4 linked regions of the Homo sapiens genome follow. The protein of the gene in region 1 purifies or fractionates together with the protein of each later gene. This does not show direct contact. Each region holds a gene or a part of one and is shown in the gene's direction. Other genes may lie near its edges.

Region 1 (3,500 bases):
TTTTTTTTTTTTTTTTTTTTTTTTGAGATGGAGTTTCACTCTGCCACCCAGGCTGGAGTGCAGTGGTGCAATCTCGGCCCACTGCAAGCTCCACCTCCCGGGTTCACGCCATTCTCCTGCCTAAGCCTCCCGAGTAGCTGGGACTACAGCCGCCCACCATCACGCCCAGCTAATTTTTTGTATTTTTAGTAGAGACGGGGTTACACCGTGTTAACCAGGATGGTCTCGATCTCTTTACCTCGTGATCTGCCCGCCTTGGCCTCCCAAAGTGCTGGGATTACAGGTGTGATCACGCCACCGTGCCCGGCCAAAGCTTTGTGTTTCTATTCAAGAAAATTTATTTGTATAAATTGAAGCTGTCCTGTCATTAGGACAGCTTCAGTTTCTCTAGTTGAATAAGTATTGTACCTAAAGAAAAGCTTTGGCAATTCAAAAGGACTCTCATTTAGGTTACTCCAGCAGTTTTTAAACTCGGTGTGGTGAAAAACATTCTTTTTCCTGGTCTTCCTTTGGATGATCAGTATGACTGTTAGTATATTTGATTTGACATTTGCTAAAAATACATTATAGAGATTCAGACTTCTTACCTAGTTGTCATCAGTGAATGAGTTCTATATTGGGCCTTTCTCTTCCTCATGTTTAGTGTTTCATAAAAATGTGTCCATATTACTCATTTCTTTCTTAAATAGTAATATTATGTGGAATTAGTACACTCAGCCTTACTCTCTCTTTTTTTTTTTTTTTTAAGAGATAGGATCTTGCTCTGTTGCCCAGGATGGAGTGCAGTGGTGTGACCATAGCTCACTGCAGCCTTGAACTCCTGGGCTCAAGCAATCCTTCTGCCTCAGCCTCCGGGTGTAGCTCGGGGTACAGATGCATGCCACCATGTCTAGCTAATTTTTTAATTTTTTGTAGAGATGGGATCTTGCTCTGTTGACCAGGCTAGTCTCGAACTCCTGGCCTCAAGTGATTCTCCCATCTGCCCCACAAAGTGTTGGGATTATAGGTGTGAGCCACCATGCCTGGTCATCCTTACTCTCTTGTTGGACACTTGAGCTGTTTCTCCATTATAAGTAGTGCAAAGAGAGGACTGTAATTTAGTGGTTTATTTTATCAACCTGTATAATTACAGTAAACTTTAACCAATTTTTTAATTTTTAAATTTATATTTAAATTTTTTTTTTTTTAGAGACAGGGCCTTACTATGTTGCCCAGGCATGGTGGCTCACACCTGTAATCACAGCACTTTGGAAGGCCGAGGCAGGAGGATCACTTGAGGCCAGGAGTTCAAGACCAGCCTGGTCAGCATAGTGAGACCCCATCTCTCTACAAAAAAAATTTTTTTTTAATTAAGGGGGCATGAGGTTGCATGCATCTGTAGTCTAACTACTTGGGAGGCTGAGGTGGGAGGGTCGCTTGAGCCCAAGAGTTGGAAGCTGCAGTGAGCTATGATAGCACCATTGCACTCTAGCCTGGGTGAGAGTGCAAGACCCTGTCTCTAAAAAAAAAAAAAAAAAAAAGAAAAGAAAAAAAAATTATTTACAATATGGCCAGTAGACTGTAGGAAAATCAAGAATGATGAGAAATGTTTCATAGGAGAAGTAGGACATAAAAATTACATGATATAGCACCATGTGGCTAACATTTTACTAGATATTAAATCTGTAGCACTGAATGGAAATGCATATCTAGATTCACATCCTCTACAACCATGAATTCATTTTTCCCTGTTCTAGTATACATGGTCTTATTTTGTCTCTCTTTACCTCAACTTGAGAAATTTGGATCTGGCATTAGAGTAAACAGATAATTGAAGACTAGAAAGAGGTAGACTGGGTGGAAATAAAAGTGGAATTTTGACAGAATAGCCTTGGGAGGGATGAAGCTGAGTATACCTGGGCCTCAGAGCAATAATCCATTTTTTAGGAGGAAAGGGACTGCTAAAGCCAGCTTTTGAGTATTCTACTCTGACCTGAGTGGCCTTGGTCTGAATAGCTCATGTTCAGAGATAAGAGTATATTTAACTTTTTTGTACTAAGAATAGTATTTGAGTAATGTTATAGGTACATATGAGAATTTGGCCTTCATCTCTGCCGAGTCAGTTAAACACAAGTTTCTCTAGATATTTCCATTACAAGAATCAAAGCTCTTTGATTTTTGGAACTTCAGTAAAACCCAAGAATGAATAGCCGAGAACTATCATACAAGTCATAAAATTAAAAGGCATTGAACAGTGTATGAAGCATCAGATATCCTGTTACATGTGTCTGCAACAATAAATTAAATATTGATTAACTGATTTTAAGTAGGCTCAAGACTTCTCTTACAGTTCTAATCTTATATTAACTAGATTTGCATATCTAATTTCTCCAAAAATATGATCAAGAAATGTTTATTTTAGTCTAGGCGTGGTGGCTCACATCTGTAATCCCAGTGCTTTGGGAGGCTGAGGTGGGAAGATCTCTGGAGCCCAGGAGTTCAAGGCTGCTGTGAGCTCTGATTGTTCCACTCCACTCCAGCCTGGGTGACAGAGCCAGACCCTGTCTCAAAAAAACAAAAAAAGTTGGTATTTCTAAAACCTACTGGTTGAATTTAGGACCTCAAAATGTTACTTGTGTGTGTGACCTTTGTTCTTGCCCTATGGTTCTGACAACCTTCCTCCTTTTTATTTATTTATTTATTTATTTATTTATTTTTTTGGTAAACTCAGGCAACATATTCATAGTCAAAGGTTACATGAAGACATTCTCAAATTTACATGATTTCAAAATTTAGTTACTTCTTTTTTTTTTTTTTTTTTTTTTTTGAGATGGACTCTCACTCTGTCACCCAGGCTGGAGTGCAGTGGCGCAATCTCGGTTCACGGCAACCTCTGCCTCCTGGGTTCAAGCAATTCTCTGCCTCAGCCTCCCGAGTAGCTGGGATTACAGGCACCCGCCACCACGCCCGACTACTTTTTTGTATTTTTAGTAGAGACAGGGTGTCACCATCTTGGCCGGGCGGGTCTCGAACTCCTGACCGGGGGTGATCCATCAGCCTCGGCCTCCCAAAGTGCTGGGATTACAGGCATGAGCCACCGCACCTGGCCTGCAGTTACTTCCTTTAACCTCAAAGATATTTTGAAAATAGACCTCAATTTACTATGCCTGAATTTAAAAAACCTTAATATTGTATTTGAAAATAGTGAATAGTGACCATTGCCACCAAGTAGAGTGATAGTAATAAGTAAAACACTAATCTTTGATATAAGGGTGATTACTAATAAATTGAATAAACTGATATATTTTAACGACTTTATTGAGCAAAATTGACAGGACAAATTGCATATATTTACAGTGTACAATTTGATAAATTTGACAAAAATATCTACTTAAAAAAATATCAGTACAATCAAGATAAGGAACATATCCATCACCTTCAAGAGTATCCTCAAGGTCAGGCACAGTGGCTTAGGCCTGTAATCCCAACCCTTTGGGTGGCCGAGGCAGGAGGACTGCTTG
Region 2 (3,500 bases), on another chromosome or scaffold:
AGCTCCAGAGGGAGAGTTTCAACATGGCCCTGCAGGGCTAAGTGAAGATTGCTCCATTTTCTTTATTTGTTAACAGTATAGTAATCCAGTTCCTGAACACACAAGGCAAGAATAGCACTGCCATTACTCAAGCAGAGGTGTGCCAAGAGGAAGAGCACAGCTGCTATCCTTTCTCGGAACAACACTCATTCAGTTTTCAAGGGGGGTGCTTTCCTTCTCCCTCACAGTGCCTTGGACCTTTACTCCACTTTGAGTAATTCTAGTATTGCTGCTCACATCCTGTCTTCATTATATTCACCTGAACAAGTGGATATAATGTCATCGTTCACATTCTTCCTTCTTCTTTATCCCCTATAGCTGATTGTCGCAAAAATGTCAATGTGTGTCTCACATTCACACCCCTCATCTCTGTTCCCATTCAGACCCCACCCTCACTGTGCCTGAATTTCTGAAACAGCCGCTTAATGGATCTTCATATTCCTGGTCTTTCCTGTTATAACAGACAGACTCTTCTTACCCATCACTGGCTGTGCAGTGCCTAGCACAATCCCTGGCATTTAGTAAACAATCAAAAATGCTGAACTCAACTGAATTGCTCCAGTTCATCCTCTCAGCTTCCCCTGGGGACTCTTTATAAATCCAGTTTTATTAAGACCTTCCAAGGGCTCTCACTGCCATTAGCAGTAACCACAGGCTGAAATGCACACCAGGGCTGAGCAGGTAACAAATGAACAACATAGGCTGAGTGGGGCTGGAGTGAACTGAAACCTTGTGCATGGTGGAGAAGACCAATGACTGCTCAGCTCCAGCCAAGAGTTTCCATGTGAGAATGTGGGCTTAGTGTTAGAGGCCAAGAATCTGGAATATTTTTTGTCGAGATCTCCAAATTTTTTAATGTTGATGACTAATTCAAAATTCAAGAAAAGCACTGTGAGCCAAGCAAAACACAGCTCTGGCCTGCACTTGGCCTGCAGGTTGCTGCTTTGTGACTCCTAGATCAAATTGCCATTGTCTGGGAATAAGCTCTCAGACCTAAACTTTAGTAACACATGCCTATCCAATCTCATTTCTCCCTCTTCCCAGAGCGCTAGACTGCCCTCCTTTATATCCACCGTTAGGAGATTCTCATTGCAAGTGATTCTCCTTTCAAAATCTTGAACCCAACTGTCCAAAAGTAGCCCGAACAGGTCCCTGACATAACTTCCCTTTTTCTGCTCACATAATTCCTTTTTCTTCAGCTGTCTAGATGTCAACTTTGACTTTTTTTTTTCTTCCAGAAGCCTTTCCCACGTCTTCCGAAATTATTCTCTCTTCCCAGCCTCTATCTTATCTGAATCTTTGTTTGCATTTCTAATGCTAACACCTAATTCAGGAGCTTATCGCTCACACCTGGACCACTCCAATAGTCTCCTAACTGATTTGTCAAAATTAGCCCATGTGAAACTGGTTTTGTTTCTCCTCCAACAGGAGGGTTAATTTGTTCCAACACCAGAAGATTCTCTTACTCAAAGCTGCCCCTTTGTGCGATCACTTTCCAGAACTTTGTTTTCCCATGTAAAGCCTCAATGCCCTAGCTAAAAGAGTGGGAGGGGGTCAGGCCTGGAGAAATTGCTGTCTCTCAGCTTGCATCCTTACATACAGTGGGCGCTCAATGAATACTTGTGGACACATTCTTTTTTCTTTTTGAGATGGAGTCTTGCTCTGTCACCCAGGCTGGAGTGTAGTGGTGCGATCTCGGCTCACTGCAGCCTCCGCCTCCCAGGTTCAAGCAATTCTTCTGCTTCAGTCTCCCAAGTAGCTGGGACTACAGGTGCGTGCCACCACGCCCAGCTAATTTTTTGTATTTTTAATACAGATAGGGTTTCACTGTGTTAGCCAGGATGGTCTCAATCTCCTGACCTCATGATCCGCCTGCCTCAGCCTCCCAAAGTGTTGGGATTACAGGCGTGAGCCACCATGCCTGGCCTGGAAACATTCTTAAACAGCAGCAGAATTGTGACCATGCGAATTTCATGTAAGTCTATTTCACAAAGATACACTTACATATTTAGCATAGCTAAATGTAAGTAATTTAATCGTATATCATTTGCGCAGGTAAAAATTCTCCTAATAAAAATTCAGCTTAGATTATCTTTCCTGATTTTCAGTTCTGCAAACTTAGCCCCTGTGTGATTGAGACAAATTCAGTGTAGGTATAAACCTGAATTTGCACATAGACTTATATGCTGCAGAAAACTTGTTTCTCACCTTCTTTTCTGAGCACTTCTGGCTGATGCCCTCCTTTATCAAGGTTAAATGGATAAAATAGATGTGAAGATTTTTCTTGGTGGAGAAGATATCTTAAGTTTCAATAGAATGGAGGATAGTATATGACAAAGGAAAGGAAGGCCACGTGCTGCTTCTTCTAGAGCGGTTACTGCCTTAAAAACTCAAACTGTAGCTATGTTATTTAGTTGCAAAAATTTATAAAAATTTAGCTCAATCACCCACAAATTGTAACATTCTTCGGTACTATGTAATTAAATTGCATTTTAGAGACGGCATAGAGACGGCGTATTTTTTTTTTCTCCTTTTTGAGACGGAGTCTTGCTCTGTTGTGCCCAGGCTGGAGTGCAGTGACGCGATCTCGGCTCACTGCAACCTCTGCCTCCCAGGTTCAAGCGTTTCTCCTGCCTCAGCCTCCTGAGTAGCTGGGATTACAGGCACCCGCCATCATGCCTGGCTAATTTTTGTATTTTTCAGAGACAGGGTTTCACCATGTTGGCCAGGCTGGTCTTAAACTCCTGACCTCAAGTGATCCACCTGCCTCGGCCTTCTAAAGTGCTGGGATTACAGGCATGAGCCACCGCGCCTGGCTTTTAAGATGCCGCCTGACAGTTTAGTGGATATGTGAGGAGAAGAAGCCGAGCAAAAATGTGTTAAACATGTAAAAGCTTCCATCTGACTGAATAGTTGGCACATGCATTTTAATCTAGATGTATTACAACGTACCTGGGATTTGTTTTAATCAAGTATGGTGAGGCCAACAGATCAGGAGGTGACTGCCATGAAGGAAGAAGCTCTTACTCACAGTTCCCTAGAAACAGGAGGCATAACACCTCACATGGGGCCATATGGGAAAGCACCTGCGTAGGTGAAGGGGCAGAAAAAGTGAGGGGAAAGAACAGGCAAAAGACTGTATTGTGAGGCAGGGGAAAGGGCTGGCTAGGTTTGGGATTGGCTAGTTTGAATAATTTTAGAGTGCTCCAGGATTCATGAGCTGCCTATAGTTGTAGTTGTCTGATGCCTGGCCCTGGAATAATAAGGGCAGGGGAAAATTGCCTCTTGCAGGGTTAAAGCCAAATAGAGGAGGTGGTTCAGAATATGGCTCTGGATTGATTGGTTTACATATCAAAGGTGTGGTCATAGGCAAGCCAGGCAAGCCATTTACCATCTCTCAGAGTTAGCTAGTCCTGGGAGGGGCAGTCTCTGGGATTAGCAAGACCCCAAAATGTCAAACC
Region 3 (4,290 bases), on another chromosome or scaffold:
TTGAAGGATGTGATGTTCATTAACATTCGGTTGTATTCCCCAGTATTTGTAATGGGAAATTACAGATAAACCGTGTCTGCACAGTTTAAGGAATACTATGTATATTCATGCACCGTATTGATTCATGCTATAGTTACTTAATCAAAGATTTTTTTCAAACCTGCCTTACATATAGGCCCACTTTAAAAGCACCTGACTAGCATGTGTTCTTGATTGCAAAATTGGCAGAGGCAGGGTGTCAACTTGATTAGGTGTTTTTATGGGAATGTAATTTGAAATCACTACTTCAGAAATTTGACTTAAAATTCTTGAGCACGTTAATATGTTTTTAAGATCTGATTATCTTTGAGAGATCTTCTGTTAATACACATTGGTTGTTAAAGAGTACCCAAATTCTAGGACAATGCTTAAAGTGTTAAAATACCCTAGATACTGTGTTATGTGCAACTGTAGAAACCCTCCAGAAATTTCCACTGCTGTTCTTCACTTTCATCTTGTCTGCTATCAAACCACTTCTGACAAAATTAGCTGTTTTGAATTACCCATATCACTGCCAGTTTTATTTTAAAATATTTTGTGTTTGAAGTATCTGTGCATGGGATCGTTGATGTTTATCAGAACTGTTCACTTTCAGAAATGATTTTTTAAAGCATTTTGTTGAAAATGCGGTTGCTTTTTTAACATTATTTTAGAGTTGTATCAAAATTTTCCTGTTTTCTGTATATTGTTGTGTCATTTCTTGGCTTTTTAATATTTTGACTACAATGCCCTAATGCGAAGAAGTATGGACATATAAATATTACAAGAGAAATTAGTTAATAGTAAAGGGTTAAAAGGTAAGTAAAATGTCCATGAAAATAAAATTTTCTTTGAACAGTTTAAAAATGGAATCACAAAAATCTAACTGCACTTGAAATGAAACTGGAAATTTTATACTAATTAAATCCTTTATTTACCTTTTCATATTTTATCAATGGAACCTTTTAATTGCTCCTTCTATATCACTCTTCTCCTTGCTTGGCTGATCTCATTACATGACTTTCGTTACAGACAGTGTGAGTGTACTAGATTTGTTTGCTGCTAATCCGTTATTTTAAGTGTTGTCAGAAGGAAATAACTTCTTGGTTTGACCAAGTAATTTTGCAAAGTCCTTCTCTACCTGATAACACGTGAATGTATAGCAGTAAAGGTGAAAATTGCAGGCCTTGTTTTGTTCTTCATACCCCCTTCAGTTGTTTATGGGTTAATGTTATTTGAAAACTCTTCCTTTTTTTAATGTGTAAAAACAATCCAAAGAGATAAATCCTTGCATAGACACCAAAAACAGTGTCTCAGAGACCTTTTCATTTTTTCCTTAGTTAATAACTGTAGTGGATGTGAAAACAAACGAGTTGAATTTTAAAACATAGCATTTATTAGTGCTATACAGTCACATTCCTTTCAGCCAGTAGTAAAGTTAAACAGATGAGTGATACAGTACCTGAATGGTACTGCTTCTGAGGCAACACTTTGGATTGAAAGTGCTGCTTTTGGTTAAAGGAACTATGTTGTGGAAAGCATATTCCAGTGTAAATTTGCAGATGTGTGTTTTTTTTTTTTGTCACTTTTCATAAGGTTTGGAGTAAGTTGCAGTGGCTTTTGATCATAGTTTAGCCCATTTAATGGTCCTTTTACCTAGAATGTTCTTAAGCAGTTAATGACAATTTGGAATACACAGATAACTTGTAGCTTAAGATACTATTTTCATTTAATTCTCCTGTGGAGAATATTGCTTTATTTTTTACTAGTTTCAGGTCAGTTATTAAAATAAACATGGAGGTTTTAATGAATGTTGTATAATATTTTATAGTGAAGGAAAATTGTGGAAAGGGCAAAGACTTTCTCTTTCCCTTATGTATTTAACTGTGCCAATCTAAATACATACTGTTTTATACAATGAGATGCATTACAAGACTTTTCTGTTGGAGTGCTCTCGACATTTTGGTTTTCATACCTGAATGATCATTGCATTTTCTGTATTTTCTAAAATGGCTCCAATTTTGTGTTTTAAGCTTCAGCTTAAGAGGAAGTTTATGTTCTAATTCTTGACTGAGAATACAGTATTGAGATTCTCTGTTTTACAGATAACAACTGGTTTTTATTACTCATTAAGTTCATTTGCATCCCGTAGCCCTCTGTAAATGTTTCCCCTAGTTGTATGTACGTAAATGCACGCTTATCCAGTGTATATTAGACATTTTTGTGCTAAAATATATTAAGTGGGATTTTTGTAGCAAAGCATTCTATTTTTCTGTTCTTACAGTGTGTGTGTGTGTGTGTGTGTGTGTGTATGCGTTTTTTTAACCTTAACTTCAGTTTAAACACTGGTGTATTTATTTTTTTAAGCAACTTGACTCTTAGAAGCCTTAGACTGATTTTTTCAATAAATATTCAACCAAAAATTATAAATTTATTAAGATGTGGCCTTACATATGGCATTCCTTGTGTTCGTAATGTGAGATTTTTGATTTAGATAAATCAAGATTCAGGATTAAAGTTTCATTGTAAGTTGAAATAGAAAATGTATTAAAATGTCTAGGCTTCTGGGAGGAAGTTCTTATACTCTTCTTTCTTGGCATTAGAAAGAAGCAATATGAATTTTTGTGAATATTCTAAATATTCAGGCAACACTGTTCAGATTGATTTAGGTTTGTCTTAACCAATGTTCTTTTTTTAGAATTTCAGGTTGTGGCATTCACTGAGTATGCAGCTACTATGGTTTTTGTATGGGACGTATAAATACTTGATTATATACGACAGATTTTAATGTCTTTAAAGACTTCCTGCTGTATTAACATATTGTAATGGAGTCTTTTAAATACTAGGTTGAATTTAATTGAAGTCACACACATCTTGAAGTGGTAACTGCATAGTAAATACTACCAAGAGTTTTTTTCACGTGGGAGTATCCTAAAACTCTGCCATGGGTGTAAATGTTTTACATTAATTTCATAATTGGACAGACCCTGCATTTAGCGAAAACATTTTGTTTTGAAAGTGTGTTCTTTTTGTCGCACTGTTACTGCGTAACACTTCTCAACATTCTGTAAGTTAAATTATTTTAAAATAACTATGGTGAATTCATGTTTATTTTTTTACTTTGAAAATTGTAGTACTCAGGTGGTATTTAATGGGAAAGGATCCTTTGGGTATAAATCATAATGTATTTTAAGGAATGCATCTATAACATTGATAACTTTAGCCTTAAAAAAAAGGTCTATTATTCCTTCCTCTGCATCCCATGGTATATTAGCAAAGTAGTTTACAGCCCTGTACAGCCTTACAAAGTTGTTTTACAATTTTTAATGGAAAGCCCTTAACAACAACAACAAAAAATTGTATCATTTTACCAATATCCACGAATTACTGATCACAGTTTGTAAATAATTTGTTTAATATCAGAAGGCCAAAGAAAGTCTTAAAATTTTAGCTATTGACTCTATGGTGACTTCACAATAAGATTTCTGTGCAAAAAGGTAAGGTGATAATTGATCTAATAGACTTTTTTTTTTTTTTTTTTGCTGTCCATGAGAATTAGACTTCATATTAGCTTCAATTAAAAAGCTCATTCCATTTTATTAAAATGTTTGTAATTGCAATTTTGTGTTTAATGTTTACTTTGTCTTTCCTTTCTTTAGCATTTAGGTGACTGTTCGGCAGTTTGATATATGGCCATTGTCGGCCTTAAACTGCACTAGTAACAAGCATGGTATTTATCTTGTATTGAAAATAAAACAAACTTTTGATAAGACTTTGCAGTTTGTCTTTTTTGTTTAATTTGTTATTTGGTAACCATTGTGTATGGTTTTAAGTAGTTAATGTTTATTGGCAATATGCAGTATAGCAGAAATTGGACTGTTGTCTGTATTCTATCTTTAAGCCAGATAGTGGTGGTTTTCTTGTGTATTGACATTTTGGTGCTCTTTAAAGCGACTGATAATTGGGCTAAAATTAGGATTAAGAGGCCTGACAGATTTCCAGGCTGTTACATGGTTTTTAAATGGAAGATTCAGAAAGCATTTGTCTAGTTTTAGAGGATCATTAACCTTACTAGACTTAAGTAAAAATGTTTGTAGCAAAAATATTTTACTGGTTAGCTTGGAAACATTATGGGGTACTTTTGAAACAGTAACAGACTTCAGTTTCAGTGATTTCAGTAGATATTTCTGTGCCAGGTATTAATATCAGGCCTCAGATTTCTTACCTGCAAGCTTCAGAGTATTAAAGGTAACAGTTCTAAACAAGTGAATA
Region 4 (3,500 bases), on another chromosome or scaffold:
AGCTCAGCGGTCCTCCCCTTGTCTTCCACTCTTGTGGCTCTCTGAGTGGGGGGAAGCAAATGTGTTTTGGTTGTGTGCTATATGGTTTTAAAGCAGATTATTAGGAAACCATGGTGAAGAGTATTGGGGTGCACTGCTCCCCCAGCCCACATACATACTTGTGTGTGTGTGCACGTGTGTGTGTTTCAAGGCCATTTCGACAACCTGAGGAAAGCTATGAATTTCCTGCTATAATTTCAGCAGGTTTCATGGTTCCTGCCAGGGCCCTCCATGAACCATAGTTTTGGTTATTTCTGATATGGTAGAAGGTGTACTTTGTTGGGAGCCAGAAGCCCTGTGTTCCCTCTGTGGTGTTGCTGCCAGCTTTGGGAGACCCCTATTAGGCAAATACACTCCTTCCTTTTAAAGAAAACTTTGATTTTCCCCTGCTATACAATTAGTACATGTATACTGTAGAGAACATATATAAACAAAAGGAAAAAAAAATCACTTTTAATCCCACCACTCAGAGAGAAGATCATTATTACTTTTTTGATGTTTCTTTCCGAAAGATATTTCTGTGCACATACATAAATTATTTTACATACAGAGATGGGTTCATACACTTTACACATGGGCTGCTTTCTGCACTTGGTGGTAGGCTGTGACCCTTTTCACGTGCCATTAAGCTCTCTTCCTATTTTTAATGACTTCATACTAATCCATTTTCTGGATATACCTCATTTTACTTGATAAGTCCCCTATTTCTGGACACTGGTGTTGTACAGAAATCTTTTCCTTTATCTAAAATTGGAGATTTCATTTTCTTTTATGAAAGCAATACAGAGAGCATGAGGGAACTTTGTGGGGTGATGGAAATATTCTGTATCTTGATCATAGTAGTGGCTACATGAGTTTATACATTTGTTGAAACTTAGCAAATATATACTTAAAATGGGTGCATTGTATTGTATGTAAGTTATACCTTAATAAAAGTGGTTTATTTAAAAAGTGATACTAATGTTAGAGATAGGATTTTTAAAGGTCTTTCCCCTCACCAGTAAAAAGGAGGAGGGGCAGTTCAGTTTTTAACTGGGAATACACAATGTTTATGACTCATAGTGAGTTAAATAAAAAATTATAATGCCAAGTAACTATTGAAACTAAGGCCCACTTTTCAAAAAAGATGCCATGTTTTTTATAATCACCATCGACTATACTTGGGAATCATTTTTGATGTTCTCTCAGAACCTCAGTCTGATTAAGGAGAGGAAAAAAATTCCAGAGCTGGAATTCCTTCATGGAAAATTCCCTGCTACCTTTCTCATCAAGGCTCAATACAGGGCAGCAGCAACAGACTGGTCTGCATTCTCCCTTTTACATGTGAAGGAGAATGGGTGATTGTCGTGTTCTGCATATTTTTAGGCTATATGATCCAGCTGCCGGGGCTGAAGTTACCTGTTTGCCTATAGGGAAGAAGGCAGAGGAAGGTTCAATTGTCCATCCCAGAGTTTAGCTTCAACTTTTGTTACTGTTGTGTAGTTTTTTTCTCCAGTTTCCTACTTCTTTTTTTTTTTTTTTTTTTTTTGAGATGGAGTTTCGCTCTTGTTGCTCAGGCTGGAGTGCAATGGCATGATCTCAGCTCACCGCAACCTCCGCCTCCTGAGTTCAAGCGATTCTCCTGCCTCAGCCTCCCAAGTAGCTGGGACTACAGGCATGTGCCACCACACCTGGCTAATGTTGTATTTTTAGTAGAGACAGGGTTTCTCCATGTTGGTCAGGCTGGTCTCCAACTCCTGACCTCAGGTGATCTGCCCGCCTCGGCCTCCCAGGGTGCTGGGATTACAGGCGTGAGCCACCGTGCCCGGCCAGTTTCCTACTTCTAACCCTTAGGTAACTTAAGTATCCTGGATGTTAGTGACTATTTTTTCTAAATGATTTCCAAATTGCTTTGTTGGCAAGAATCCACCTCTAGGATGTCCTTCCCGTATTTTGCTTCATCCTTGAACTAACATCCTAGGAGCAACACATGCTGCCTCTTTTTAAAGGGGCCTGGAGGCGTGGGGCAGACCCTTGAAGGAAGGAAGGAGTTGGTGAGCTGAGATGGTGAATGAGTTGACATTGTGGGCTTCTTTCAGAATCCGTTTCTGAATCTATGTAGCTACTTGATTACAGTTTGGGCTTCTCACCATGATCAGAGCAGTCTTGGCCTATTTTTCTCTTCATTTAAAGGTACAGATCTGTTGTGAGCAAACAGGCCTTACTCTTGGCTTTTCCCTTCCACTGTTGTACCATCTTTAATATCCCAAAGCTGTGTCTTAGAGTCTCACTGATTTGAATAACCTGCCACCCAGAGTTTTTGTTGAGTGCCCTAAACAGTCATTTAAACCTTTTACTTTTAGTTTATTTGGCACGTGAAAAGGGTCACAGCCTACCACCAAGTGCAGAAAGCAGCCCATGTGTAAAGTGTATGAACCCATCTCTGTATGTAAAATAATTTATGTATGTGCACAGAAATATCTTTCGGAAAGAAACATCAAAAAAGTAATAATGATCTTCTCTCTGAGTGGTGGGATTAAAAGTGATTTTTTTTCCTTTTGTTTATATATGTTCTCTATAGTATACATGTACTAATTGTATAGCAGGGGAAAATCAAAGTTTTCTTTAAAAGGAAGGAGCGTATTTGCCTAATAGGGGTCTCCCAAAGCTGGCAGCAACACCCTGATGCTTGTTTTACTAGAAAGGGAAACTTGAAGTCACTTGGGTCTACCAGCCCAGTTAACTCTTTAAAGAAAATAGGGTTCTGTTTTGGTGTGGTTCTTTGTTTTTGTTTGGTTGATTGTTTCATATGAACCCAAACTTAACAAGTTGTGTTTTTACTTTAACACTTTTATTTCTTTTATACAAACTTTTTCCTTTGTCACTTCAGTTTTTAACGCTGTTAGTAAGTAGGGCCTCTGGTAGGGCCTCTGACAATCAGCCGCATCTTTTCTCTCTCTCTCTTTCTCTCTCTCTCTCTCTGCATATACATATGTGTATTCTCACTGTATCTGTAGTTTTCTGAGTGTGTTACATAGGTGTTTCTAATCTTCTAATCTCTGATGGTTTTGCCTGTTTTAGGCTGTGATAATGCCATTATCATCTGGAATGTGGGAACAGGGGAAGCCCTTATAAACTTGGACGATATGCATTCAGACATGATTTACAATGTGAGCTGGAACCGGAATGGCAGTCTGATCTGCACAGCTTCCAAAGACAAGAAAGTGAGAGTCATTGATCCCAGGAAACAAGAGATTGTTGCTGTGAGTATTCCTAGGATGAAAACTCAGTAGTTGGAGCACTTGAGTGAGTGTGAGCTTTCTGCTTTTTAAGGCAGGCAGCGGTACTGGTCAGTGGGACCCTGTTGTGTGTAGACACCAACTGTGAATAAGAGAAGGCTTATAAAGGCTTCTGTCTCCCCAGTTGTGCTTCTCTCCAGAGTTGTAAATTTTCCAGCTTTTACTCAAGTCTCTCACTTTGTA

The links. The genes of interacting proteins can lie anywhere in the genome.
Region 2: the proteins of P4HA1 (region 1) and SQOR fractionate together in Homo sapiens (co-fractionation; one large-scale study listed by BioGRID). This does not show direct contact.
Region 3: the proteins of P4HA1 (region 1) and CPSF6 purify together in Homo sapiens (affinity purification with mass spectrometry; 2 studies listed by BioGRID and IntAct, with this or other methods). This does not show direct contact.
Region 4: the proteins of P4HA1 (region 1) and CORO1C fractionate together in Homo sapiens (co-fractionation; one large-scale study listed by BioGRID). This does not show direct contact.

The regions. Positions count from the first base shown.
Region 1 is NC_000010.11:73,090,367-73,093,866, reverse strand, and holds part of P4HA1 (prolyl 4-hydroxylase subunit alpha-1 isoform 2 precursor), read left to right. Parts: intron 1-3,500. UniProt on the Homo sapiens protein: Catalyzes the post-translational formation of 4-hydroxyproline in -Xaa-Pro-Gly- sequences in collagens and other proteins.
Region 2 is NC_000015.10:45,641,529-45,645,028, forward strand, and holds part of SQOR (sulfide:quinone oxidoreductase, mitochondrial), read left to right. Parts: intron 1-3,500. UniProt on the Homo sapiens protein: Catalyzes the oxidation of hydrogen sulfide with the help of a quinone, such as ubiquinone-10, giving rise to thiosulfate and ultimately to sulfane (molecular sulfur) atoms.
Region 3 is NC_000012.12:69,270,569-69,274,858, forward strand, and holds the end of CPSF6 (cleavage and polyadenylation specificity factor subunit 6), read left to right. Parts: 3' UTR 1-3,790; downstream 3,791-4,290. UniProt on the Homo sapiens protein: Component of the cleavage factor Im (CFIm) complex that functions as an activator of the pre-mRNA 3'-end cleavage and polyadenylation processing required for the maturation of pre-mRNA into functional mRNAs.
Region 4 is NC_000012.12:108,658,519-108,662,018, reverse strand, and holds part of CORO1C (coronin-1C), read left to right. Parts: intron 1-3,099; coding exon 3,100-3,281; intron 3,282-3,500. UniProt on the Homo sapiens protein: Plays a role in directed cell migration by regulating the activation and subcellular location of RAC1. Increases the presence of activated RAC1 at the leading edge of migrating cells.